Linked DNA regions of Homo sapiens. The protein of the gene in region 4 purifies or fractionates together with the protein of the main gene of each other region. This does not show direct contact. Each region holds a gene or a part of one and is shown on either strand. Other genes may lie near its edges. The genes, in order: PPP6R3, ERAP1, TFRC, SLC27A1, SAAL1, DYM and ATP2B1.

The links.
Region 1: the proteins of SLC27A1 (region 4) and PPP6R3 purify together in Homo sapiens (affinity purification with mass spectrometry; one large-scale study listed by BioGRID and IntAct). This does not show direct contact.
Region 2: the proteins of SLC27A1 (region 4) and ERAP1 purify together in Homo sapiens (affinity purification with mass spectrometry; one large-scale study listed by BioGRID and IntAct). This does not show direct contact.
Region 3: the proteins of SLC27A1 (region 4) and TFRC purify together in Homo sapiens (affinity purification with mass spectrometry; one large-scale study listed by BioGRID and IntAct). This does not show direct contact.
Region 5: the proteins of SLC27A1 (region 4) and SAAL1 purify together in Homo sapiens (co-immunoprecipitation; 2 studies listed by BioGRID and IntAct, with this or other methods). This does not show direct contact.
Region 6: the proteins of SLC27A1 (region 4) and DYM purify together in Homo sapiens (affinity purification with mass spectrometry; one large-scale study listed by BioGRID and IntAct). This does not show direct contact.
Region 7: the proteins of SLC27A1 (region 4) and ATP2B1 purify together in Homo sapiens (affinity purification with mass spectrometry; one large-scale study listed by BioGRID and IntAct). This does not show direct contact.

Annotation. Positions count from the first base shown.
Region 1 is NC_000011.10:68,463,752-68,467,251, reverse strand, and holds part of PPP6R3 (serine/threonine-protein phosphatase 6 regulatory subunit 3), read right to left. Parts: intron 1-3,500.
Region 2 is NC_000005.10:96,783,946-96,787,445, forward strand, and holds part of ERAP1 (endoplasmic reticulum aminopeptidase 1 isoform b precursor), read right to left. Parts: intron 3,162-3,500; exon of another isoform or gene 2,605-3,161; coding exon 2,525-2,604; exon of another isoform or gene 2,027-2,524; coding exon 1,843-2,026; exon of another isoform or gene 1,440-1,842; intron 1,124-1,439; exon of another isoform or gene 136-1,123; coding exon 1-135. UniProt on the Homo sapiens protein: Aminopeptidase that plays a central role in peptide trimming, a step required for the generation of most HLA class I-binding peptides.
Region 3 is NC_000003.12:196,061,591-196,065,090, forward strand, and holds part of TFRC (transferrin receptor protein 1), read right to left. Parts: intron 2,839-3,500; coding exon 2,719-2,838; intron 1,350-2,718; coding exon 1,264-1,349; intron 1,056-1,263; coding exon 992-1,055; intron 1-991. UniProt on the Homo sapiens protein: Cellular uptake of iron occurs via receptor-mediated endocytosis of ligand-occupied transferrin receptor into specialized endosomes. Endosomal acidification leads to iron release.
Region 4 is NC_000019.10:17,498,024-17,501,523, reverse strand, and holds part of SLC27A1 (long-chain fatty acid transport protein 1), read right to left. Parts: intron 1,247-3,500; coding exon 1,120-1,246; intron 1,030-1,119; coding exon 892-1,029; intron 813-891; coding exon 648-812; intron 252-647; coding exon 105-251; intron 1-104. UniProt on the Homo sapiens protein: Mediates the import of long-chain fatty acids (LCFA) into the cell by facilitating their transport at the plasma membrane.
Region 5 is NC_000011.10:18,092,583-18,096,082, forward strand, and holds part of SAAL1 (protein SAAL1), read right to left. Parts: intron 1-3,500. UniProt on the Homo sapiens protein: Plays a role in promoting the proliferation of synovial fibroblasts in response to pro-inflammatory stimuli.
Region 6 is NC_000018.10:49,331,646-49,335,145, reverse strand, and holds part of DYM (dymeclin), read left to right. Parts: intron 1-1,292; coding exon 1,293-1,418; intron 1,419-3,139; coding exon 3,140-3,282; intron 3,283-3,500. UniProt on the Homo sapiens protein: Necessary for correct organization of Golgi apparatus. Involved in bone development.
Region 7 is NC_000012.12:89,702,339-89,705,838, forward strand, and holds part of ATP2B1 (plasma membrane calcium-transporting ATPase 1), read right to left. Parts: intron 1-3,500. UniProt on the Homo sapiens protein: Catalyzes the hydrolysis of ATP coupled with the transport of calcium from the cytoplasm to the extracellular space thereby maintaining intracellular calcium homeostasis.

The DNA.
Region 1 (3,500 bases), on a different chromosome or scaffold from region 4:
AGTACAAAATCAGAGCCTCCTTATATCTGTAAAAAGATGTTCAGAACCTATCGAACTTTAATTGCATAAGTTCAGTCAACTGTATAGTCTTCACTAATGCATCTAAAACAGGTCAACTCTAGCCAGCCGTAAGTGACAATTAGTAAATAGCCTCTACTCAGGGTAAAGCCAGCTCTTTGCCCAGTCTGTGACATGACAATGTCCTAGCTAGGGCCGGGTGCAGCGGCTCACGCCTGTAATCCCAGCACTTTGGGAGGCCAAGGCGGGCGGCTCACTAAGAGATCGAGACCATCCTGGCTAACACGGTGAAACCCCGTCTCTACTAAAAATACAAAAAATGGCCAGGCGCGGTGGCTCACGCCTGTAATCCCAGCACTTTGGGAGGCCAAGGCGGGCGGATCACAAGGTCAGGAGATGGAGACCATCCTGGCTAACACGGAGAAACCCCATCTCTATAAAAATACAAAAAAAATTAGCCGGGCGTGGTGGCAGGCACCTGTAGTCCCAGCTACTCGGGAGGCTGAGGCAGGAGAATGGTGTGAACCTGGGAGGCGGAGCTTGCAGTGAGCCGAGATAGCGCCACTGCACTCCAGCCCGGGCGACAGTGTGAGACTCCGTCTCAAAATAAATAAATAAATACAAAAAATTAGCCGGGCATGGTGGCCGGCCCCTGTAGTCCCAGCTACTGGGGAGGCTGAGGCAGGAGAATGGCGTGAACCCGGGAGGCAGAGCTGGCAGTGAGCCGAGACCACGCCACTGCACTCCAGCCTGGGTGACAGAGCGAGACTCCGTCTCAACAAAAAAAAAAAAAAAAAAAAGAAAATGTCCTAGCTAGGCATAGAGATAAGATACCTTTCCACATACTGTCAAATGCCCTTTTACTTGCTTCTTTACCACGTAGCCAACCTACCTGGTATCCAAATGTCAGTCTGTAATCTTTCAATACCTGAAATAAACTGAGTATTGATCTAACTAGCAACTATCTCCCTCCTCATAAAACTAAAGGGGGTGAGAAGTAGGAAAGGGGGCTTCCATGACAAATAAATCTAAGCCAAAGTCAAAAGGCCAAAACAAAATCTCCAGTCAACCTAGATCCATAATGCAGCAGGAGAAACACCCCCTCCCACTTGAAGTAGCATCTATTTCAAGAATGCCGGAAACATTTTGCAAAAACCTACAGCAAGCTTCGGACGGGTCTGGAACCAGAGAGTCAGTGTCTGAGGTTTGGTCAAAGGATAACTGTTGTGTAGGGAGCTATAAACAGCTATCTGTCATTACAAAACGGCTTCAGTATGGGAAGAATGGCACTGCTTTTTAAGACTCCTCAAACTAAGGAGGCAAGTCGAAGTAATCATTTCTTATAAATGAGTAACAAAGTGTAACTATCTTATTCTTTTGCAAAACTTCTGGCAATCTCAACCACCCAAAGTTTAAACAAATCAACCAACTGACCAGCAAACAGAAGCTCTTTCCTCCCAGGCCCCATTGACACCATGTACAATTCTTAACAGCTTTGTCGTCTCTTGTTTGCCTCTTCCTCTAGACTGCAGGTCCTTAAGGGCCTGTTCATCAGTGAATCCCTAATACAGTTCCTAGCAGAGTAAGGACTCAATTAATGTATTTGCTGATGAAATAAATGGATATTAGAAGTAGATGGTGGTCACTGGTAGTTCTCAACATAGGCACAGGCCGAATTTCAGGATGAAGAATAAGAAAATGCCTCCATGACCTTTTGTAACTTCAGATATTAACATTTAGCTGCTAAAAATTTATAGTTTTCCTAATATTCTTCCATTCCATAAACTAGATAATCTAAATTTTAATATGAGCAAAAAAGATCTACCCTTCTCTCTACCACTGCATCTCATCTCCCCAGGAGAAAAGAACACTTCTCTGCTGGGATCAGAGTCTAGGGCACAGAAGAGTCCAACTTACCAGTGGGCAGGATCACTGTGTTAAAGGCTGAGCATACTGTATGCCTATCTGTGCCCTCAATGGGCAGAACTGGTAAACTGATCCAGGGCTAATTCTCTGGGAATAGGTCTTTATTAAAACAAAAACAAAAACAAAAAACAGGCATGGTGGCTCACGCCTGTAATCCCAGCACTTTGGGAGGCCGAGGCGGGCGGATCACTTGAGGTCAGGAGATCGGGACCAGCCTGGCCCACATGGTGAAACCCCATCTCTACTAAAAATACAAAAATGAGCCAGGTGTGGTGGCACGCACCTGTAATCCTAGCTACTCAGGAGGCTAAGGCAGGAGAATCACTTGAACCCAGGAGGCGGAGGTTGCAGTGAGCCAAGATCATGCCACTGCACTCCAGCCTGGGTGACATAGTGAGACTGTCTCCGAAAAAAAAAAAAAAAAGTTGAAGCTGGCATCTAAAACCAGACCTGACCACTGACTGACAAAAGGAGGGCAAAAGATACTAACTCAAAAATTACAGTAGTGTAAGATTATTCAGCACAGAAGCAAACTCTAAATATCTAAGAATTTTGCTTAGTTTCAGCACAGTATGGTAATGTATTTTCATGAGGTTAAGAAAAAAAAGTCCTAAGATATTTTATAAAATCAATTAACAAATGCTTCTAAAGTTCAGTCTTCAGGCATCTGAAAAATGGTTAAGTATACCATCTAAATAATCCCCACTACTAAATAATCTCCAAGGCAGGATCTAGGTACTGCAAAGACCAAGTTCACAGATCACCGAAAGGAACCCTTAACTCACAAACAGTCCCTAAACCTGTGGTGTAAAACAGTGGTTCCAAAATTCAGCTGCATTTCAGTATTGTCTGAGAAGCTTCTAAAAAATAGATTCTCGTGGCCGGGCATGGTAGCTCACACCTGTAATCCCAGCACTTTGGGAGGCCGAGGCGGGTAGATCACGAGGTCAGGAGTTCAAGACCACCCTGGCCAAGATGTGAAACTCCATCTCTACTAAAAATACAAAAAACAGCCGGGCATGGTGGCGGGTGCCTGTAATCCCCGCCACTAGGGAGGCTGAGGCAGAGAACTGCTTGAACCCAGGAGGCAGAGGTTGCAGTGAGCCGAGATGGCACCACCACACTCCAGCCTGGGCGACAGAGCTAGACTCATCTCAAAAAAAATTAATAAGATTCTCAATCCCACCATTTCCAGAGGTGGAGTCCAACATCCATGGTCTTAAAAAATTTCTAATTATTCTAATGCAGGCTTATTCTAATGTAGGCCAGTCTCACATCTATCTAAGTGCAGGATTTCTCAACCTCAGCAGTGTTGCTATTTGGGACTGGATACTTTTGCTGGCGGGCAGGGAGGAGGCTATGCTGGACACTGTAGGATGTTTAGCAGTATCCTTGGCCTCTACCCTCCAGAAGCACACTGCCCACTCCCAGAGGTGTAACAAGCAAAAATATGTCCAGACACTGCCAAATGTTTCCTGGGGGGTGAGGGGGGAACCACCCCCAACTGAGAACTCTTGAACTAGAGTAAATCAAAAGACAATCATTTGAAGTTAAGA
Region 2 (3,500 bases), on a different chromosome or scaffold from region 4:
TTCATATCTCTTTTCTCCATTAACTTATACATAGGAATCAGCTCATTCAAACCTTGAAACACGGGCATAATTTCAGTTTCATGTTTCAAGTACAGGGATAAATCCAAGGCCTTTTCAATGGACAGCTTCCCAATGCTGACCAAGAGACACTGTGGTTAGTGGTTTAAAAGTAAATCCGGGAAGTCAACTTTTTGCTTCAAAATATATTTTAATCTTCTAGCAAAACAAGCAATCAGATATAAATGTCCCTTATAAATAGATAACTACGGCCGGGCGCGGTGGCTCATGCCTGTAATCCCAGCACTTTAGGAGGCCAAGGCAGGTGGATCACCTGAGGTCGGGAGTTCAAGACCAGCCTGGCCAACATGGTGAAACCCCGTCTCTACTAAAAATACATAAAATAGGCAGGCATGGTGGCAGGTACTTGGTATGTGGGAGGCTGAGGCCGGAGAATCACTTGAACCCGGGAGGCAGAGGCGGTGAGCTGAGATGGCACCACTGCACTCCAGCCTGGGCGACAGAGTGAGACTCCATCTCCAAAAAATAAATAAACAAACAGATAGATAACTACTATATAAGTCTCTTTTCTATCACATATAACACAACATCCGGCATGTTTACACTAGGGAGGAAGTTTCTCAAACAGTAACGTCTAGGGCTAACGTGGATAAGCCGGAAAGGAAGCACATCAGCATCTATCCCTGTGAAACACTGGATTGAGTGGTGAACTTCTAGAGTAAGCAAGGGATTTCCATCAAAGACCCTTTAGGAAGCCTGGTCAAACAGACTATCATCTGGTCAAAACCATGAGTTCCTGGAGGAAACACATTTTCTTCTCCATTTCAAAGACACTGCATATCCTTAGAAACCCTTCATTACAGAGGGTTAGTGTTAAAAACCTCAGTGGTAGGGTATATATTATATAAGTTAAAAAATAAAAAAGAAGAAGCCCTCTAAGGCTCAAGCAGAAATATTCTACAGAGGGGAATTTTTTAGGCAGAAAGAAACAGCTAGGTAAGCAACCCATAACTTTCTCCCCCATTGCTTTTTCTCACTTCAGGAGGCCCAGTATGGTGGTGAGAAGAACCAGAAGGCACTCAAAATTTAGGCCAGAAGGATACGGGTATGAGGAGAAAGAGATAATCCTTCCCACCTGCATGCTTCCTCTTAGGACTTTAGGTCTGCCTACATGTTGAAGAAGTTTGAGTTTTAGGCTTTGGGAGCATTTCCTTAAAAACCATTGTCATGGGGGAGGAAAAAAAAAGGGTAGTGTTAATTCTGTCTTCACACACTCAGAGATCATTTGGTTGGGCTACATTTTATGAGCTATATTCCATAAAGATGCTGCAAAGTTCAGGTATCTGGTTTAGGAAAGAAAAAAAAATCCCTTCTTTAACCCAAGAAATGTAATGCAAACAACTTGGGCCTGTGTCACTTAGTCTTCTAAGAAGACTTCAAGGCTGTTATAAAGACCCAGTGGTGGGAGAAACCTGATCCGGTATAGCGGGGCCAGAAGAAGCTGCGGGACCATGCCGCGGGGACAAGGCAAGGAGTTTCGCCAGGATGTTGATCTCCTGGTTATCTACACTTCCGCCTCAGTATGATCTGAATTATTAATGAGAAAGATTAAGATACAGATTCCTTCCTTCAAGTGCCTTAGTAGTCACAGACAGGAGGTTAATTATAAGACTAAAAGCAATCTTGGGTTGTTAGAAGAACTTAAAGGAAAACACCTTTCAACTTCTTGTTATCAATCAATCATTTTTGTCTTTAGAAATCAAGAATTTGAACAATAACAGCTGCTTTCAGAAATAAACCGCGACTTTGTGCAGCGTGTATTACCTGACGAGCTGAAATGCATTGTTAATGAGACTCGCCCGATCATTACTGCTGACTGCTGTGTGTGTTCCTTTTAAAAGGCCAGTCAAAGAGTCCCATCCATCATCCTCGTAATGCACAATGTAATAGCCATTCATGCCCACATTAAATTTGATCCATTCCACCTCTTCTGGGAGGATGAGCACATCTAGAGTAAATAAAATAAATCAAAGTTCCATTTGCTCCCCTGCCTGAAGAAAGCTTTTCTCATCCAAGATTGGGCAAGGAAATTAGAGAAGAGTTTAATACTGAAAAATTTGAAAACATCACTTATTTCTCTCAGAAACCAGAAAACAGCAACTCAATAGACAAAAGCTAACACTAGCTTTAGACATCAATTTTGTGAGATTTACAGATCTATGAAAAGAATGGCAACTACATCTCTGGCCATACATATGATATAACCCAGTAATGTTAACAAAGTAATAGTGAATGTTCACTGGTAATCCCTCCTTTTTAGCATTATATAATTCAGCTATAATCTCTATCTGGCAAGATATTGGCCATTCTTCTTTGAAACCAGAAAGCATTTTCAATCTGATCCCTTTTGCTTTAACCAAGATAAATAGCAAAAGAAACAGCACTTTAATCCTACACATTTTCACATTCCTCCTTGAATTAACTAGTAGTTTCCAAAATAAATTACCTGTTTTTGTTTTTAGCAAAAATCGATGGACCATGTCGGATTTGCTGGTGATGAATGTCAATGGAACATGCCACAGGTACCTAAAATAAAGGAGAGGTGGATTGTTCATTTGTTGATTCAATTCAACAAGCAGTTATTAAATCACCTATCATGTGCCAGGCACTGGTTAGTTTAGAACAAGATAGTACCAAAACTGCTACAGCCAAGCTCTCAAAACATCCCCAGTCTGTTTTCCAGCTTTGTAGGGAGTGTCAGCTCGGGCACTATTTCCTTTTCTTGGACTCCTTGAGTAGAGCTAAGAATTTGGACTCACGTGAACCCTGAAAGCCTTTTTACAGTGATTGGCTGATTGCATCTCAGAGGCCTAACTTCAGGACTCATGTGCCTCCTGAATAGTATATTAGGAAGGACACAATATCACCTCCTTGGGATTCCTGTCAATGATATGTAAGCTGAACCTGATCATGGAGAAACAGCAGAAAATCCAAACTGAAAGGCATTCTATAAAATAACTGGCCAGTACTCTTCAAAAAATGTCAATATCGAGAAGCCCAAAAAAGACTGAAGAGTTGTTTCAGAAAAAAATGGAGACCAAAATGATGCAACAACTAAATAAAATAAGTGATCCTGTATTAAATCCTAAGTCAGAATTTATTTTCTATTTTGCTATAAGGATATTTTTAGGACAATTGGAAAAAGTTGAATGGGATTTATAGATAATAGTATTATATAAAGTTTATTTCCCAATTTTGATAATTGTACTGTGGCTATGGTTATATAACTGAATGTTCTTGTTTTTTGTTTGTTTGTTTTGAGATGGAGTTTCGCTCTTGTTGTCCAGGCTGGAGTGCAGTGGTGCGATCTCGGCTCACTGCAACCTCCACCTCCTGGGTACAAGCGATTCTCCTGCCTCACCCTCCTGAGTAGCTGGGACTACAGGCGCCCGCCACCATGCCCGGCTAATTTTTGTATTTTT
Region 3 (3,500 bases), on a different chromosome or scaffold from region 4:
GTGATTCTCCTACCTCAGCCTCCTGAGTAGCTGGGATTACAGGTACTCGCCACCACACCCGGCTAATTTTGGTATTTTTAGTAGAGACGGGGTTTCACCATGTTGGCCAGGCTGGTCTCGAACTCCTGACCTCAGGTGATCCGCCTGCCTTGGCCTCCCAAGTGCTGGGATTACAGGCGTGCACCACTGCGCCCAGCCCAAAAAGCCCAGTTTTTAGACCAACACTCCCATTTCTGACTCAAAGGTCTGGGGTAGACATGACAGTTTGCATTCGTAACAGTTCCTAATGCTACTCATCTGGGGGCCACACTGAGAACTACCCACTGTTCTAGACAAGCAATTGTGCTCACTGTGTAACTTGACAGACTATTTAAAGGAAGGTTAAGATACAGGCTGAGGGCAATGGCTCATGCCTGTAACCGCAGCATTTTGGGCAGCTGACATAGAATGCTTGAACTCAGGAGTTTGACACCAGCCTGGGCAACATGGCAAAACCCCATCTCTACAAAAAAAATTAGCCAGGTGGCTGAAGTGGGAGGATCACCTGAGCCCAGGAGGTCAAGGCTGCAGTGAGCCAAGATTGTGCCACTGCACTCTAGCCTGGGCAATACAGTGAGACCCTGTCTCAAAAAAAAAAAAAAGCTTTCTTCCACTTCAAAGTAGTTTATCTGGCCAGGCACAGTGGCCCACATCTGTAATCCCAGGCCGAGGCAGGCAGATCGCCTGAGGTCAGGAGTTCGAGACCATCCTGGCCAACATAGTGAAGCCCTGTCTCTACTAAAAATACAAAAAATTAGCTGGGTGTGGTAGTGAGCACCTGTAATCCCAGCTACTCAGGAGGCTAAGGCAGGAGAATCGCTTGAATCTGGGAGACAGAGGTTGCAGTGAGCCGAGATCGTGCCATTGCACTCCAGCCTGGGCGACAAGAGCAAAACTCCATCTCAAAAAAGTTTACCTGAATTCATACACAGCTAATGAAAGGGATACTTACCAAGAACCGCTTTATCCAGATTAATATAAGTGAAAGCCTTTAAATGCAGGGACGAAAGGTATCCCTAGAAGAGAAGGGAAAACACTAATAAGTATAAATCTGTTTATTTATCACATACAGTAGCATTAGGGATTCATTTTCAATTCTGGACTCTACTGAGACTAAACGCAAAGGCAAAAGTGGTAAAATCAAACCTATAAAAACATCACTTCTGGACAACAGCCTAAGCCCACAAGCTCGTGTCCAATATGGGAAGGGATGATAAAGAATACCTCTAGCCATTCAGTGGCACCAACCGATCCAAAGTCTCCAGCACTCCAACTGGCAAAGATAATGCTTCTGCTGGGCTGAAACCCATCTGAAAGAGAAAAAAGTTAGCTTTACCTGAGGAAAGGTTATACACAGACAAGGATGGAAGGTATCCCACTTAAGATGAATCAGAAGGTCTAATTCCAAGATAGCAGATTCCAAAATCTTTTTTTTCTGAGCCAAAAAAGAAAAAAAAAACTAACAAAATCTTTTTTTGAGACCCCAGGTAAAAGAATAAAAGAATAGGAATAATTTTTTTTAAAGTAACCTACAAAGAGCAAGATAGGAGATCTGCAAATAAGATTTTGAGTACATAGCAGGGGCCAGTAGTCACCCTTTCACAATTTCATTCTTGGAGTTCCTTAACTTCTGGACCCAGAGATCATTGAAAACAGTGTAAGCATGATGATGCACATCTTGAGAAAAATCTTCAGAGGTAAATCCAAACATTGGATTTTTAAAAAAATAATTCTAAAATAAAATAAAAATTCACAAATTTAAGTTACAAGAAGAGTTTGCAGAGAAACTATATTTGTGACAGCACCTTTTGAGGTTACATGTATCACACTGCCCTCCATCCCTCCCACTTCCCTCACTGTATCTTTTTCTCCATTAATGTACTCTGTATTAAAGTTAAGCATTGCAGTTTGCCCTAAGACCCAAAGATTCAAGAATGTGACGTGATTTTGAATGTGTGGGTGGGTAGGAGTGTGAAAGAGTGGAAAGTAGGACAGAAAGGCTCAAAAATAAACAAAAGAGGCAGGGCACGGTGGCTCACTAGCAGCATTTTGGGAGGCTGAGGCGGGTGAATCACTTGAGGTCAGGAGACTAGCCTGGCCAACATGGCGAAACCCTGTCTCTAGTAAAAATACAAAAATTGGCCGGGTGTGGTTGTGGGTGCCTGTAATCCCAGCTACTCAGGAGGCTGAGGCAGGAGAATTGCTTGAAGTCGGGAGGCAGAGGTTGCAGTGAGCTAAGTGAGATCACACCACTGCACTCCAGCCTGGGCAACAGAGTGAAACTCTGTCTCAAAAAATGAATAAATGAATAAACAGAACAAAATTTCAATAGCTGTTAGGCCTCAGTACATGAGTAGAGAGGTATGCTACTGCTTTCAAATAGATTGCTTAGGGACTATGATCCACCTTATCACTCTGGATCCACCACACTAAGCACTAGGGCTCAGTAACTCCACTGTCTCAAAGAAACTGGTGATTTCTAGCACAGTTAAGACACTTTATGGAAAGCTGTTTCAAAGGAAAAGGCAGCTACAACAAAAGACAATCTGCCTTGTATTTAAGAACTAGAGTCTAGCATGAGAACCACAGGAATGCAGGCAAAGTGAGCAAAGCACAGTATAACATCTAGAACTGTATGCAGTGCACCAATATTCAAAAGAATCAAAATTTGTACTCTACCTTTTAAGACCATATCTGAGAACATCTGGGCAAGTTTCAATAGGAGAGCTGTGCCTACACCGGATTTTGCAGCTCCAGGGCCCCATGCATCTCTCTGGGCCCCAACTACAACATAGTGATCTTTAAAAAAGAAAAAAGAGGAAGAAAGAACTTATATAATCAGCTTCTAAACTTTTCTAGAATTAGCACATCAGTAGAAAGGTAAAAGCACAGTATATGTATTAAGGATAAAAGAGCCTTACTTCAAATCTGACTAAAAACTCTGGGAATTAAAAATTCACATGAGAATATTAATTTTACCTTACTAGTAGAGCTACTTTTTTCCTACACTACTAATTAAATTTACTGACTACTTAAGTCCAAGGACTTATTTCTTAGTAAGTGTTGGCTGTTTGATTGCATTTAAAGTTAACTCCAGGGACTGGCAAACTACAGCCCGCATGCCCATTCACTACGCACAGTCTGTGCCTGTTTTCTTGCTCCCACAGAGTTGAACAGCTAAAAGAGAGACTGTATAGCCTGGCAAAAGGTTTATTATCTGCCCCCTTAAGAAATTTGCTTATCACTGGTCTAGTCAATAACTTAGAATAGATTTTCTAGTCATAATGGTCAATTTTTAACAAGAATTTCCTAGGGCCTTATTACCTCCCAATAAAACTGACACATAGGCTGGGCGCGGTGGCTCATGCCTGTAATCCCAGCACTTTGGGAGGCTGAGGGAGGCAGATCACCTGAGGTCAGGAGCTCTGACCTCATGGAGCCTGACCAACATGGAGAAACCC
Region 4 (3,500 bases):
CCCCGGCCAGGTATTCTTTTAGAGCAACACAAAATGGACCAAGACATGAATCAACAGACACACTGATGGATGAAGAGAGAGATTGGAGTGGGGGAGACTCGCACCTGTGGTGTCCACCTGGGGCAGGAGGCGCAGGAAGATGGGCCGGGCATAGGGTGCCAGCACCTTCTGCAGCTCCTGGTATATCGCGTTGGGGTCCAGCAGGCTGTGGGGGTCTGCGACGGCCGCCATCCCTGCCTTACCCTCCACTCCTGGAGGCAGAGGCTCAGCTGAGGACACCCCGCCTCTCATCCTCCCCACCAGCAGGACCAGATACACTGTCAAGCAGTAGCCCCTGGTCTGTAATCTCCAGTCTCTCCCAACCTGGGATGACATTTATGGAAGCAGCCACACATTTTGTGGAGCTCCTGCTTGGCTCATTGAAGCCCTAAGACAGGTGGGCTTTCATGATCCCATTTTCTGGATGACAAAACTGAGGCTCAACATCACCCAGGTGAACTGGCTCCAGATCCAGTGCTTCCTCCTGGGCTGCCATGAGCAGTTGTCCAGGTTGTGCACTGCCCAAAGGCATGTGTACTTCTAAGCCCCTTTTGGCTGAGCTCCCTCAGGACCATGCCTCAGGACCACCCCCTGCAACCCCAGCTTGCCTGGAACAGCCACCCCATAGACGGCCACGTCTGTCTGGCCCAGCAGGCGGCTCAGCACGCCCTCCACCTCGGTGGTGGAGACGTTCTCCCCTCGCCAGCGGAAGGTGTCCCCGCTACGGTCCCGGAAGTACATGTAGCCCAGCTCATCCATCACTAGCACGTCACCTGGCAGAGGGGAGAGGGGCAGATGGGTGGAGGATCCCCATCCGCACAGCCAGTCACCGGGGCCTAGCAGGCTGCGCACCTGAGAGGTAGGCGCTGTCGCCCTTGCTGAAGACGCTGTGGGCGATCTTCTTGCTGGTGGCGCTCTCGCTGACATAGCCATCGAAGCGGCGCAGCGGGTCCTGTTGGTTGATCTGACCCACAAGGAGGCCAGGCTCCCCTAGGGAGAAGGCCATGTTCAGGCTGCGCTAGGCAGGCAGGGCGTGGGGACCCCTGCTCCGGGTGGGGACCATGCGGGGGCCCTGCTCACCGGCCTGGCAGGGGATGCAGAGGCCCTGGGCATCCCGCAGCAGCTCCATTGTGTCCTCATTGACCTTCACCAGCCGGATGGGGTACACGTGGGGCAGGATGCGGCTGTTGAAACCACAGGAGCCGACCTGGAATGGGGTGAACTGAGTTGGAAGGAGCCGGGGATATGCGGGGTCCTTCTCAGTAACACTTTGCCTGCCTTGCCCTGGGGCTTGGACCTAGCACCTCCAGTGTCATTCTAAGCTCTGTGACCTTGGCTGATCTGCAAAAGCAGGGTAGTAAGCGTCGCCTCCAACTCAGGGCCCCTCCTCCCACCTTCCCAGCCTGCATTCAGTCAAGAGAAGACCTCTGGCTGGCACCCACTTCCTGATCCACAAAACCCTCCATGCTGGCAGGAAGTAGATGCCTCTGTGTGGACACTACAGCTACGTCAGACACTGCAGAGCTTCACCTGCTGCCCGCCGCCCTGCTTGGCATGGTTCTATGAACAGAAATGCTTCTCCAACATGTTTGAGCCACTACACCCTGTCTGGTGTGTTTCTTTCTGCTTTTCCCCCTTCCTCCGTTCCTCCCTTCCTTCCTTCCTTCCTTTTTTTATAGAGTCTTACTCTGTCGCCTAGGCTGGAATGCAGTGGCGCAATCTTCGCTCACTGTAACCTCTGCCTCCCACGTTCAAGTGGTTCTTATGCCTCAGCCTCCTGAGTCTGGGATTACAGGCGCATGCCACTGAGCCCAAACAATTTTTTTTTTTTTTGTATTTTTAGTAGAGATGGGGTTTTGCCATGTTGGCCAGACTGGTCTCGAACTCGTGACCTCAAGTGATCCACCCACCTCAGCCTCCCAAAGTGCTGGGATTACAGGCGTGTGTGGGTGGCAAGCTACCCAGGTGCCGAGGCAAGAGACCGAGGGCACGAGCCATTCCAGTATAATAAAATATATAAAACAACAAGAGTTATACTAGATCTAGATCATAGACATGATTATATATGAATATCATTAGTCATCAGTTTGTAGCAATTACTCTTTATTCCAGTATTATAATAATCCTCGCTCTGTAATCATAACCTAGAAAAAACCGGGCCATAGAGAGATAGGAGCTGAGGGGACACAGTGAGTAGTGACCAGAAGACAAGAGTGCGAGCCTTCTGTTATGCCCGGACAGGGCCACCAGAGGGTTCCTTGGTCTAGCGGTGACGCCAGCGTCTGGGAAGTCTAGTCTAGCGGTAGCCTTAGTGTCAAGGAAAAACACCTGCTACTTAGTGGACCGGGAAAGGGAGTCTCCCTTTCCCCCGGGGAGTTTAGAGAAGACTCTACTCCTCCACCTCTTGTGGAGGGCCTGACATCAGTCAGGCTTGCCCACAGTTATCCGGAGGCCTAACCGTCTCCCTGTGATGCTGTGCTTCAGTGGTCATGCTCCTAGTCCGCCTTCATGTTCCATCCTGTACACCTGGCTCTGCCTTCTAGATAACAGTAGCAAAATTAGTGAAAGTACTAAAAGTCTCTGATATGCAGAAATAATGGCATAAGCTGTCTTTCTCTCTCTCTCCCTCTCTCTGCCTCTGCCTCGGCTGCCAGGCAGGGAAGGGCCCCCTGTCCAGTGGACGCATGACCCACGTGACCTTACCTATCATTGGAGATGACTCACACTCTTTACCCTGCCCCTTTTGCTTTGTATCCAGTAAATAACAGTGCAGCCAGACATTCGGGGCCTCTACCGGTCTCCGCCTCTTGGTGGTAGTGGTCCCCCGGGCCCAGCTGTCTTTTCTTTCATCTCTTTGTCTTGTGTCTTTATTTCTACAATCTCTCGTCTCCGCACACAGGGAGAAAAACCCACCGACCCTGTGGGGCTGGACCCTACAGGCGTGAGCCACCGTGCCTGGCCTGGTGTGTTTCCTATGCAAGAATCTGAGCTACAGTGAGCAAAAGTGCCCTGGGGGCTGGCCATCCAACACCAAGCACACTGAGGAAGGAGCATTGTTCTTGGCATTAAGGACCCAGCCCCCATGGCACTTGCTGTTTTTTTTTTTCCTTTTTAGAGACACAGAGTCTCACTCTGTTGCCCAGGCTGGAGTCCAGTGGTGTAATCATAGCTCACTGCAGCCTCGATCTCGTGAGCTCACGTGATCCTCCCGCCTCAGCCTCCTTAGTAGCATTGACTACAGGCACCTGCCACCATGCCTGGCTAATTTTTTATTTTCTGTAGAAAAGGGGGTCTCACTACATTGGCTATGCTGGTCTCAAACTCCTGGGCTCAAGTGATCCTCCTGCCTCAGCCTCCCAAAGTGTTAGGATTACAGGTGTGAGCCACTGTGCCCAGCCGACATTTGCTTTATGATCATTATTACGGTCTGTTCTTGGCCTTGGATGGGAGGGGCTTGGGAA
Region 5 (3,500 bases), on a different chromosome or scaffold from region 4:
AATGATTGATAGGAATGAGATATGCAAACAAAAAGACAGACATTCAAATAAGGGGAAAGTATCAGCAAAGGCAGGAAGGGAATCATGTACATGGCGAATACTGTAGACAATAAAGTACTCTGGTTGTGGCACAAAGTGGGTGAACAGCATGAGGTAAATACTGCAGGTATAAAGGACTGAGATTAAGGGCTCTGAATGCCGTGCTGAAGAATTAGACTTAATCTGGGAAGTTATTTGGAATCATGAAGATGCTCAAGGAGGGGAGACAACATACTGAAACAGTATCTTAGGAAGATTACTCTGGTGGCGAAATGCATAATGTATTAGTGTAGTCCCTCTTTATCCATGGTTTCAGTTACCCATGGTCAACCTTGGTATAAAAGTACTAAATAGAAAATTCTAGAAATAAACAATTCATGTTTTAAATTGCATGCCTTTCTGAGCAGCACGATGAAATCTTGCACCGTCTCACCCAGGATGTGAATCATTCTTTTGTTCAACATATCCACACTGTATGTGCTGCCTGCCCATTAGTTACTTAGTAGCCATCTTGGCTATCAGATCGACCATCGGGATATCTCACAGGGCTTGTGTTCATGTCACCCTTATTTTACTTAATAATGACCCCAAAGCACAAGAGTAGTGATGCTGGCAATTTGGATATGCCAAGGAGCCGCCATTAAGTGCTTTCTTTACATGAAAAGGTAAAAGTTCTTGACTTCATAAGAAAAACAAACAAAAATGTATGCTGAGGTTGCTTAGGATCTCTAAGAACAAATCTATCCATGAAACTGTGAAGAAGGAAAAGGAAATTTGTGCATATTATAAATAGGGTTCAGTACTATCCTCGGTTTTAGGCATTGGGGGCCTTGGAATGCAACCCCCAAGGATAAGGGGAGACTAGTGTATAGGGAAAAGAAGTTGAAAAGAACTTAAGAATCTATCTCAGTAATAGTTAATTAATATGTAATAACAGTTTATTACCACTCACGGTGGCCAGGCATTACTCTAAGCATTTTCTGTGTATAATTTCATATAATAACTTAGGTGATAGGTACTAATAGTATCCCCATTTTTTCAGATGAGGAAACTAAGGCACAGAGAAGTTAAGCTACTTGCCTAAGATCTTAAGATCTCCAACTAGAACACGGCAGAGCTCCAGAGCTTGAGCATTTAACCACTATTCCAAACTGCACCTCAGTTATCAAGATGCAAGAGGAGGAGGGCCCTCAGGCATGGAAAAGGATGAAGCTGAGGAAGACTCTCAAGGTGAAAGCAAAATAATCCAGTGTGAGGATAAAGGAGAAAGCAGTTGAACTTGACTCCTAGCTTTCAAGTTGCCTCATTTCCCCATCAGTGATATTGGTCCCGTTGACAGGAAAACTAAAAAAGAAAGTGCATAAAAGGCTACAATGAGTTCAGATGGTACAGTGTTTCCAACCTTGCTGGAACATAAGAATCACTCAGGGAGCTTGTTAAAAATACAGATTTCCAAATCTCATCTCAGATCTACTGAATCATAATTTCCAGGGTAGAGCCTGGAAAGCTATTGTTTACCCAGCATATACCAGGTGACTTTTATGATTAGATAAGTGTGACCATAAATCACTGAGGACATACAGAATTCAGGGTTAGAGAGTACAGCTGACCCTTGAACACAGGTTTGAATGTGTGGGTCCACTCATAGGTGGATTTTTTCTAACCAAACTTGGACTGAAAATACAGTGTCCTCAAGATGCAAAACCTGCACAATATGCAGAGCTGACTTTTCATACACACAGGTTCCACAGAGCTGACTGCTAAATTGAGTATGTGTGGATTTCAGTATGGGGGAATGTCTTGCAACCATCCCCCATGTATACCAAGGGACAACTGTAGAGCGTGCAAGCAGAGAATGCCTGAACAAAGTTGGAGATGTGACATCAGTTATCAGAAGGGAAGTCGAGGCTTTGCTCCTACAGGCAGAGTTGCAACTTAAAGGTGTAAAGAACACATAAGTTCACTAGGAAAATGAATATAATGAGAACAAAGGATCAGGGCCTACACCTTAGAAAAAGTCCATATTCGGGACAGTATAAAAAAGGAAGAAAGAAAAAAGCCAATGAAAGGTGAGAGACGAGTGACTGAAGAGGTCAGAGACGACAGTGAGGTGACACAGGAGCTATAGAAATGGAATTTCAATAAAAAGTGGGTGGTCAAATGTTGGGAAAAGATTAAGAGTGAGTAGGGGCAGAAAAAAACCACATACATTTCCCTTATAAACTAAAGAGGGAATAACTGAACTTCCAATCAAAGATCAAGTTTTTCTTGGCTGTTCACTGGAATCACCTGGGGAACTTTAAAAGCTGCCCAGAGTCTCACACTTGGAGATTCTGCTTTAACTCATCTAGGGTATGGCCTGACCAAGATTTTCAAAAGTTCCCTAGGGTAAAGCTTCTCAGAGTGTGGCAATGCACCAGAGCACCAGCATCACCTGGGAACATATTAGGAATCCTGGACCTACTGGACTAGAAACTCTGGAGGGAGGCTCGGCAATTAGTGATGCGGGGACATGCTTAAGTTTGAGAGTCCCTGTCCCAGGTGATTCTAACATGCAGCCAAGGCTGAGAATCACTGTGGCAGCAGACGGTGGCCAGCGGATATAATACAACAATATGACTAATTCCTAAAAGGTGCCATTCCTGACATAAGCTTATTTCTTTATATACTAGTAGTGAGTAAATATATTTAAGACAGAAAAACTCAGTATAAAAATAGCATAATCATCAAATCTTATATTAATATAAGGAATCAAGGAAAAAACGGTTAATCAGGCCCTAATTCAGAGAGAACATTCTACTTAAATAAGAATTCTAATTCAACATTCAATTTGTAAAAATACACTATGGAATTCTCCATTTTATAATCTGAAAGAGAGGAAATACAGTACAGTGGTTATACTGAAGTCAGGCCTAGGCTGAAATCTCAGCTCCATTCTTTCCTAGCTGTGTGACCCTGAACACATATCTTCACCCAAGATTTAGTTCTTTGAAAGTATACCTCATAGTAGTAAGACCAGGTATTCAGTAAACAGCAGTTTTTCATAATTATAATTATTGAACAGATATTTACTAATCCATGATATGCATAGCACATGGCAATTTAATTGGCAATAAAGCACAGTACACTGCACAGTATATAAAGGCCTCTCCTTTAGTCTTTATCTATTGTTCTTGGCAGTTTACTAACAGCAATGACTACTGAAAGCTTACTTACTTACTTGGGAAGGTGTGGAAGGAAAAGTACCACTGTGAATTAACAGATGCAAATACTGAGAGGGGACAGAAGGCACACAAAGGGAGGCACGGAGACAGCATGAGACAGGGAGTAGAAAGGTCTGGCTAAATCAGAAGGGTTACCTGGCTATCCAGATTTTATGCTGGAAAGATGAGTTAGGTTCAGAGAGTAGAGGTCTTAAGCAGCAGGCTGAGTTTAGAATGGTTTTCAAGCAATGGTGGATT
Region 6 (3,500 bases), on a different chromosome or scaffold from region 4:
TAAATATATTTCTTTTTCTTTCTTTATTTTTTGTTTTTGAGATGGAGTTTCGCTCTTATCGCCAAGGCTGGAGTGCAATGGCACGATCTTGGCTCACTGCAACTTCCGCCTCCCAGGTTCAAGCCATTCTCCTGCCTCAGCCTCCCTAGTAGCTGGCATTACAGGTGCCCGCCACCATGCCCAGCTAATTTTTTGTATTTTTAGCAGAGATGGGGTTTTACCATGTTGGCCAGGCTGGTCTCAAACTCCTGACCTCAGGTGATCCACCCGCTTTGGCCTCCCAAAGTGCTGGGATTACAGGCGTGAGCCACTGAGCCTGGCCTTTTAAACATATTTCTATCAGTAATAACTCCTTAAGATATCTGGTAGAATTTAAATTTTTCTAGTTCTAGAATCAAGTCATCATTAATTTGTTTAATGAGCTTTCATTTAAGTAGGTGTTAAGTATTTTTCTTTGTTTTTCATAATTATTTCATTTTTATAAAAATATTTTAGTATTCTTTTGGTGCTATTGCTCTTTTTACTGCGTTGTTGAGGTTTCTACTTCCTTGGTCTTAACATGTTCCCCATTATAATCCTGTTTAAACTTTTGCAGTAACTGGAAATTTCTGGATGCCTTTATTCCTCTGTGTGCTTTCTGTTCAGCTGAATCTTTTTCTTTTTATTTGATCTAAGACTTGTTTCCCAAAGGGGTTTATGATCTTGAGAGGACAGAGTAACCCTTCATAATCAAAATATGCTTAATAAAACAGGAATAACTTGTTTACTGTTAATATTTTGCTGAACATGCAAAGTTGACCTTGAGAAAGGTAGGCACTAGAGACACAAGATCTAGGGTGTATTATTGTTCTGATTGTAAAGTGATCATCAACATGAAAAGGCATTGTTTTCTTCCCTACACTGTACCTTCTCTTCAGCTTTACAATCTGAGTATTTGTCTCTGTATTATCACTAAACAGAAATGAACATAGATGTCTAGAGTGAATCTTCAAAACAGAACACTGCTAGTAACTATTTCCATTATACATAAATAGACTTGTCATTTAATAGGAGATGGAAACTGGAAAATAGGGAAATAAAGGGATAACTAACCCAAATACACCAGCTAATGACAGGGAAGGAGTTTAATATTTTTGCTTGACTTAATTTTTGTATTAAACGTATTAACATTTTTCAGTAACCTGAAAATACTGAATATTTAGATTTGAGTTTTTAAATGTATAGTTCATTTAGAAAAGAATAGTGTCTTAATCTTCCAAAGTGACTGTTACTCTGTTTTTCTTCCATTTTAGAGATATTACATATGAAATATCAGTAGAAGCTATATCAACAATGGTTGTTTTCCTTTCCTGCCAACTCTTCCACAAAGAAGTTTTGCGACAGAGCATCAGCCACAAGTATTTGATGCGAGGTCCATGGTATGTTTCTACTTTAAGTATGTCTAGTTTTTTCATTGTATAAATCTATATTTCTAGTCTTGTCCTTTTACCTGAGTATCGTCCCATATCTCCAACCAGGTATTTCCTCTAGTTGTTCTATTGTCTCTTTAAACCCAGTGCATAGGGAACCGCATTCTACTTTCCTGTGCCATCTACCCATCCTCCCTGTTCTTCCTGTCCCGTAGCTTCATTACCTTCTCCAGTGGTTGCTTCGTAGAATTGAAACTTTGAAATCATCTTTTTCTTCCATCTCCTTCATTCTGTCTATGTTTAAGCAGTCAAGTCATATTTGTTATTCAGATTATTTTTGTATCTTCCTCTTCTCAGCAGTCCCTTTGAAACACCTGTGATCTATGCCCCCTTACTCTCTTTGGACTTCTCCAGCAGCCTCTTCGCTGACTATTCCTACTTCTTTGAGCCTGCAAATATTTGCTGTGTGCTATCCATGTGCCAGGCATGTTAGACTGTGGGGCTATGCTCTTGAGCAGAAGCTTACGATCTCCTAGAGGGTGTGGATGCAAATGACCAACACATATGCACATACCTGACCTTTTATTAACATAATCTTCACAAAACTTTAAAAATGTAAAACAAATCCAAATAAAGTACCTTTGAGGAAAGTTCTCAGATAGTGGGGAGCTTTGTCTTCTTCATATTCTTTTTGCTACCCTGATTATTCCTGTGGCATGTATGTTCTTTGAACATATTTGAAAATCACTGAGGGAAAGGATCTGGGCTTTGGAGTCAGAGGTTTGCATTGGAACCCTCTCTGACAGAGACACTCAGAATGACACTCAGAATGACCGTGGTTTGAAGTAGTGCTGGCATCGTGGGACTGTGTGCATCTTTGCTGAAACAAGATTGTGAACTTCATCCCTTATAGTGCCAGAGTATTCAAGTTGCTTTTTAAAAATAGACATAGAGGGTGTTAGTGTTCTTATTTTCTAAGTAAGGTTTTTATAGTATCATTATGGTGCCACATATTTAAACCGTAATATGTTCTTTACTTATTTTTGGGGTTCATCTTGGAAACCATATTTAAAAAGCTCAATAGTACATTAAAGAATCTGTTAAAAAGTTTACTCTATATTGCAGGAATTAGTTTAATACCAATTGAATAATTGAATAATTTCATACTTAAAAAGTGTAGTCCTATTGTTATTTTTAAATTCTTGCTTTTTTCTACTGATTCTTTATTACTACTTCCCTTCAATTGCCAGATAATGTGTTATGCACTAAATTTATAATAGCTCACAGTGTTATACCGAATGTAGATAAAGTAACTGGAGTTCAAGAGTTCAAGTGGGCTGGGCACGGTGGCTCACGCCTGTAATCTCAGCACTTTGGGAGGCTGAAGCGGGAGGATCGCTTGAGTTTAGGAGTTTGAGACCAGCCTGGGCAACATAGTGAGACCTTGTCTCTACCAGACCTTGTTTCTCCCCACTGCAGAAAAAAAGTATTTAAGTAATTTGATCAATATCTTATGATGTGATAAGAGGAAAAGCAAGGATTAAGCCTCAAAATTGCTCTCAAAGCCCATGGTCTTCACTGTTGTGTGCAGTGCTCAATTTCTGTGAGTTGTGCCAATAGCCCTTTTGTATTAACAGATAGTGTTAATGGCAGAATTATTTCTGTATTGTTATTCAGAATTAGATGACTCCCATAAATATGAGTTTGATTTTTTTTTCCTTTTTGTATAGTCTTCCATACACCAGCAAACTTGTGAAGACCTTATTATATAACTTTATCAGACAAGAAAAGCCACCTCCTCCAGGGGCCCATGTTTTCCCTCAGCAGTCGGATGGGGGAGGACTGCTTTATGGACTTGCATCAGGAGTAGCAAGTAAGTTTTATCAGATTTTTTCAATTCTTTGGTGCACATAAATTTTATCTATTTAGGCATAAGAAATTCTGTTTGCTTGGCTGCCACCATTAATAGTTACATTGAATTTGTGCAGCTGGTTCAATGTGAAAACAAAGTAATTAAAATATTAATCTTTCTGTTTTGTGCGGTGATTTATGTAAAATGTATGCAAATAATGAATGGATTACCTACAAAAC
Region 7 (3,500 bases), on a different chromosome or scaffold from region 4:
AAAAAAAGATGAAAGTTTTAGTGAAGAAACTGTGGTTTAAAATAGGTTATTGAAAAACAAAAGAAAATTCTGGCACAAATATGAAAGGTAGATTAAAGCAGCAGATCTGAGAGTTTTGAGAGTACAAGATTATTATTTAAAATCCTCCTGAGAGAGAACTCACTCACAGGGTTAATACAATGAATAATAGATCCACATTGTTAATAAAAAAGTATTTAAAAAGCATCTTTCAAGTTAAACAGTCAAATCTTCTTTAAGACCTATTTTTTTCAGAAAACATAAATTTGACTCCTAAATTTATCAGGTCTGTACAGTAGTCATGCCAGTTTACAGTTAGGCAGTGTAATCTCAGATTTCACAGTGTAAGCAAGCATTGGTCCATTCAACACTACCTTTATTTGTTCCCTCAGAGGCCCAGGTGACAGTAGTATTACTACAAAAGCAGGTATCCCATATTTTAAGAAACCATATTGTTGGAAGTCACTGTACTTAGAAATACCAAATATTCTTATAACTAAAAACACCACATACGATTTGGAATAGCTGACACTGTCCTAGGAAAAATTTAATAGAAAATAGCTTTTAAAAATATGGCAAAAAAAAATGTGCCCACAGTTTATTTGGACCTCTCTGCCAAAAATATTTATTAATTTAGATTACCATAAGCTTTAGTAAATTACAAGCTATGATTCCTAAATAAACCTTAAGGTGTAGCCAACAAGACTAAGTTTTGGAACAAACAAAAACAGGTTCCCAACAGTCTTGAGATGAACCTGCTTTGAAATTAATTTTATTATAAAATATATTTTAAATGCAGATACAGGCTATTTGCTATACTGTTATAAATGAAGCAAAAAACAACTGCATTTCAAAACTGGTCTTAAAGAGGAAAATTATTAAAGGCAGGTAATTCACGTGGATATGGTATTAGATAAAATAGTTCCAAAAGTCAGAGTAGATTGGTGAACTACACAAACGGTTATTTAACATTTAAGTGAGACAGCAGTAACTTCTGTTTTAATGCATAAAATAGTAAATTATCAATTAGTATGCTATCACTAATATTCTTGGAAGATCTACTTGCTGTTTTTGAAAGAGCAACTGCTTGTTAACTAAAATTAAAGAGAGCTATCTATCCACTAACTTATGTCCTTTTAGTCTGAAGGAATATCCGATCTTTTCTTCTAACAAAGAGCTAGACTAAAGGATAAACACACACTACTGTAAGGATACAGCATGCATTATTTTTATGAATATAAACTCTGGTGTCTAAGTCATTTGAAAATGGCAGACATTAAGACATGAAAATAAAAGAACATTCTCTAATAGTTTACAGTGCTTAATAAGTAACTTAAGTAACCACAGATGGATCTTCTGAAAGACTGGGCATACATAGATAACAGAAATATTTTCAATTTATCAGTTCTAGGATTGTCACAAAAACCATCGACATCAACAAATCAAACTTTGCTACTGATTTAGGTATCTCTACCATGTAACTTTAACTTAGTTATAAATGCAATGTCAATGTTTCTCAAAATGCAGACTACTGTAGCATTTGGCCCCACCTCAAATCTGCTGAATCAAAATTCCAGGGGCAATGCCAAGGAATCTGCACTTTCAGTAACTCCCCCAGGTGATTCTTCATGCACATTAATGCTGGAGAACCACACCTTTCTTGTGAGATTTATAACCAGGTTTTGGATTTCAGGAACTAAAACCTCCTCATTTGGAACCTTTTAAACTAAATTTCATTACAGAACAAATGAATATTTCAAAGAGATTTAGGTAATAAACATGTTATAGTATAAAAACAAGTGCATAAAAAGTTACAGCAGAAATTTAAAGAAGAAACTTTTAGTACAGCACATTTTATTTTTATTCAAGATTTAAGACACCCCTAGGCCAACAGTTCTTTGAAATCAAAATTCCTAACTTAAAAAAATCCACAATATTAAAAATATAGTATTTCAGATACGTTCACATTCACTCAGCTGTTAAGTAAATCAAAACACAAACTGTTTGTATTACACCAAATATAAGTAATGATTAAATTTATAAAGCTCAACCCAAACAAACCCATTCATATTTCTCTATTAAATTTACTCTGATCAAAACTGATTTTCCATACATAACTTTCATAAACTTACATAAACGTGTATAATGAGAAGAGCAATGAGCAAAATCTAGAAGCCACCTAAAGTCCAGTTTGGGCTAAAAAAGCTGCTAGCTATATGACCTTAGGGCCTAGACAAATCACTTTGCCTACCAGAAAAAAAACAAAAAACAAAAAACAAAAAAAAGTACAATTGTCTGCCTTACTCACCACACAGGATTATTGTGAGAATCAAATGAGGTCATATGTAAATACATTCTGAAAACTGTAAAGTAGTTAATAATAATACCTGTGATTTCTGAAGACAGCAAAATTTGAGAGACACTATCTTTGGGCACCTGCTGTAAAATACACAAACTACCACCAGAAAAATTAAAATGTATATGCCACTAAAGAATCAACGAAGAACATAAAAACTGACCATTCAGATTTAATTAGATATTGGACACTATTGAGTATACCGTATTCTGAAAAATACAAATACAAAAATTCGATTCGATTACCTGTCCTATGTCCCCATTTATAACAGAACCATTTCTTGTGTTAAGATATAAATGAAATGTGATGGACCACGAGAGTTGGTAATTGTCAAAACTGGCCAGTAAGTATATCATTCTCTCTACTTTCCTATGTTTGATAATTTCTATAATAAAAAATTTTAACAAGACAACAATATATGTGGTATGTATAGATAACATTTCTAAAAGCTAAAAAGTGAATTTTTTAAAGTTATTTATCTTTATGAAAATTATTCCCATAACCATTGTATGTTATTTTCCTGGCAATGTCACCTCAGATTCCACCTAGTCCCAAATAAGCTACTATTAGTACCTTTATTACATATCATGACAGCTACTAGAAAATAATTATTCCCTTCCATCTGGTCAATACTCTTGCCCGAGATGCAAAAACCTAAATGTTTGTTTCTGCTTTCTGATCCTCAGTCCTTTTATTGTTTTTTGCTCATCCATTACAAAATTCCAGAATAAAAAAGTGAAAACATCAATTTTACTGTATTCATGTGTAAAATGTAAGGGAAAAAAACCAAATATTATTTTGTTCAATATTACAGAAGACCAATAGTTATAAGTGGCCGTTCCTTTTAAAACTCATTTCCCATGGTAAGAGACTGTTGCATCTGAAATGAAGTTAACATGTCTGTCAGTCAAAGGAAATTAGTAAATCTTACTCTGAAATCAAGGAATCTATGAAAGTATATATAACAACATATAATTACTCTACATGCAACAATCTAATAGCTCAAATAATGTCCTTTATCCCGGGGCCATATTCCATAGTTCGACAGAGAACACATAGCAGTAAGGGGATAAAACACCTTTCATCTCAGAGTTTTTGGCTAATTTTAGTTTAATAAAGACTTATC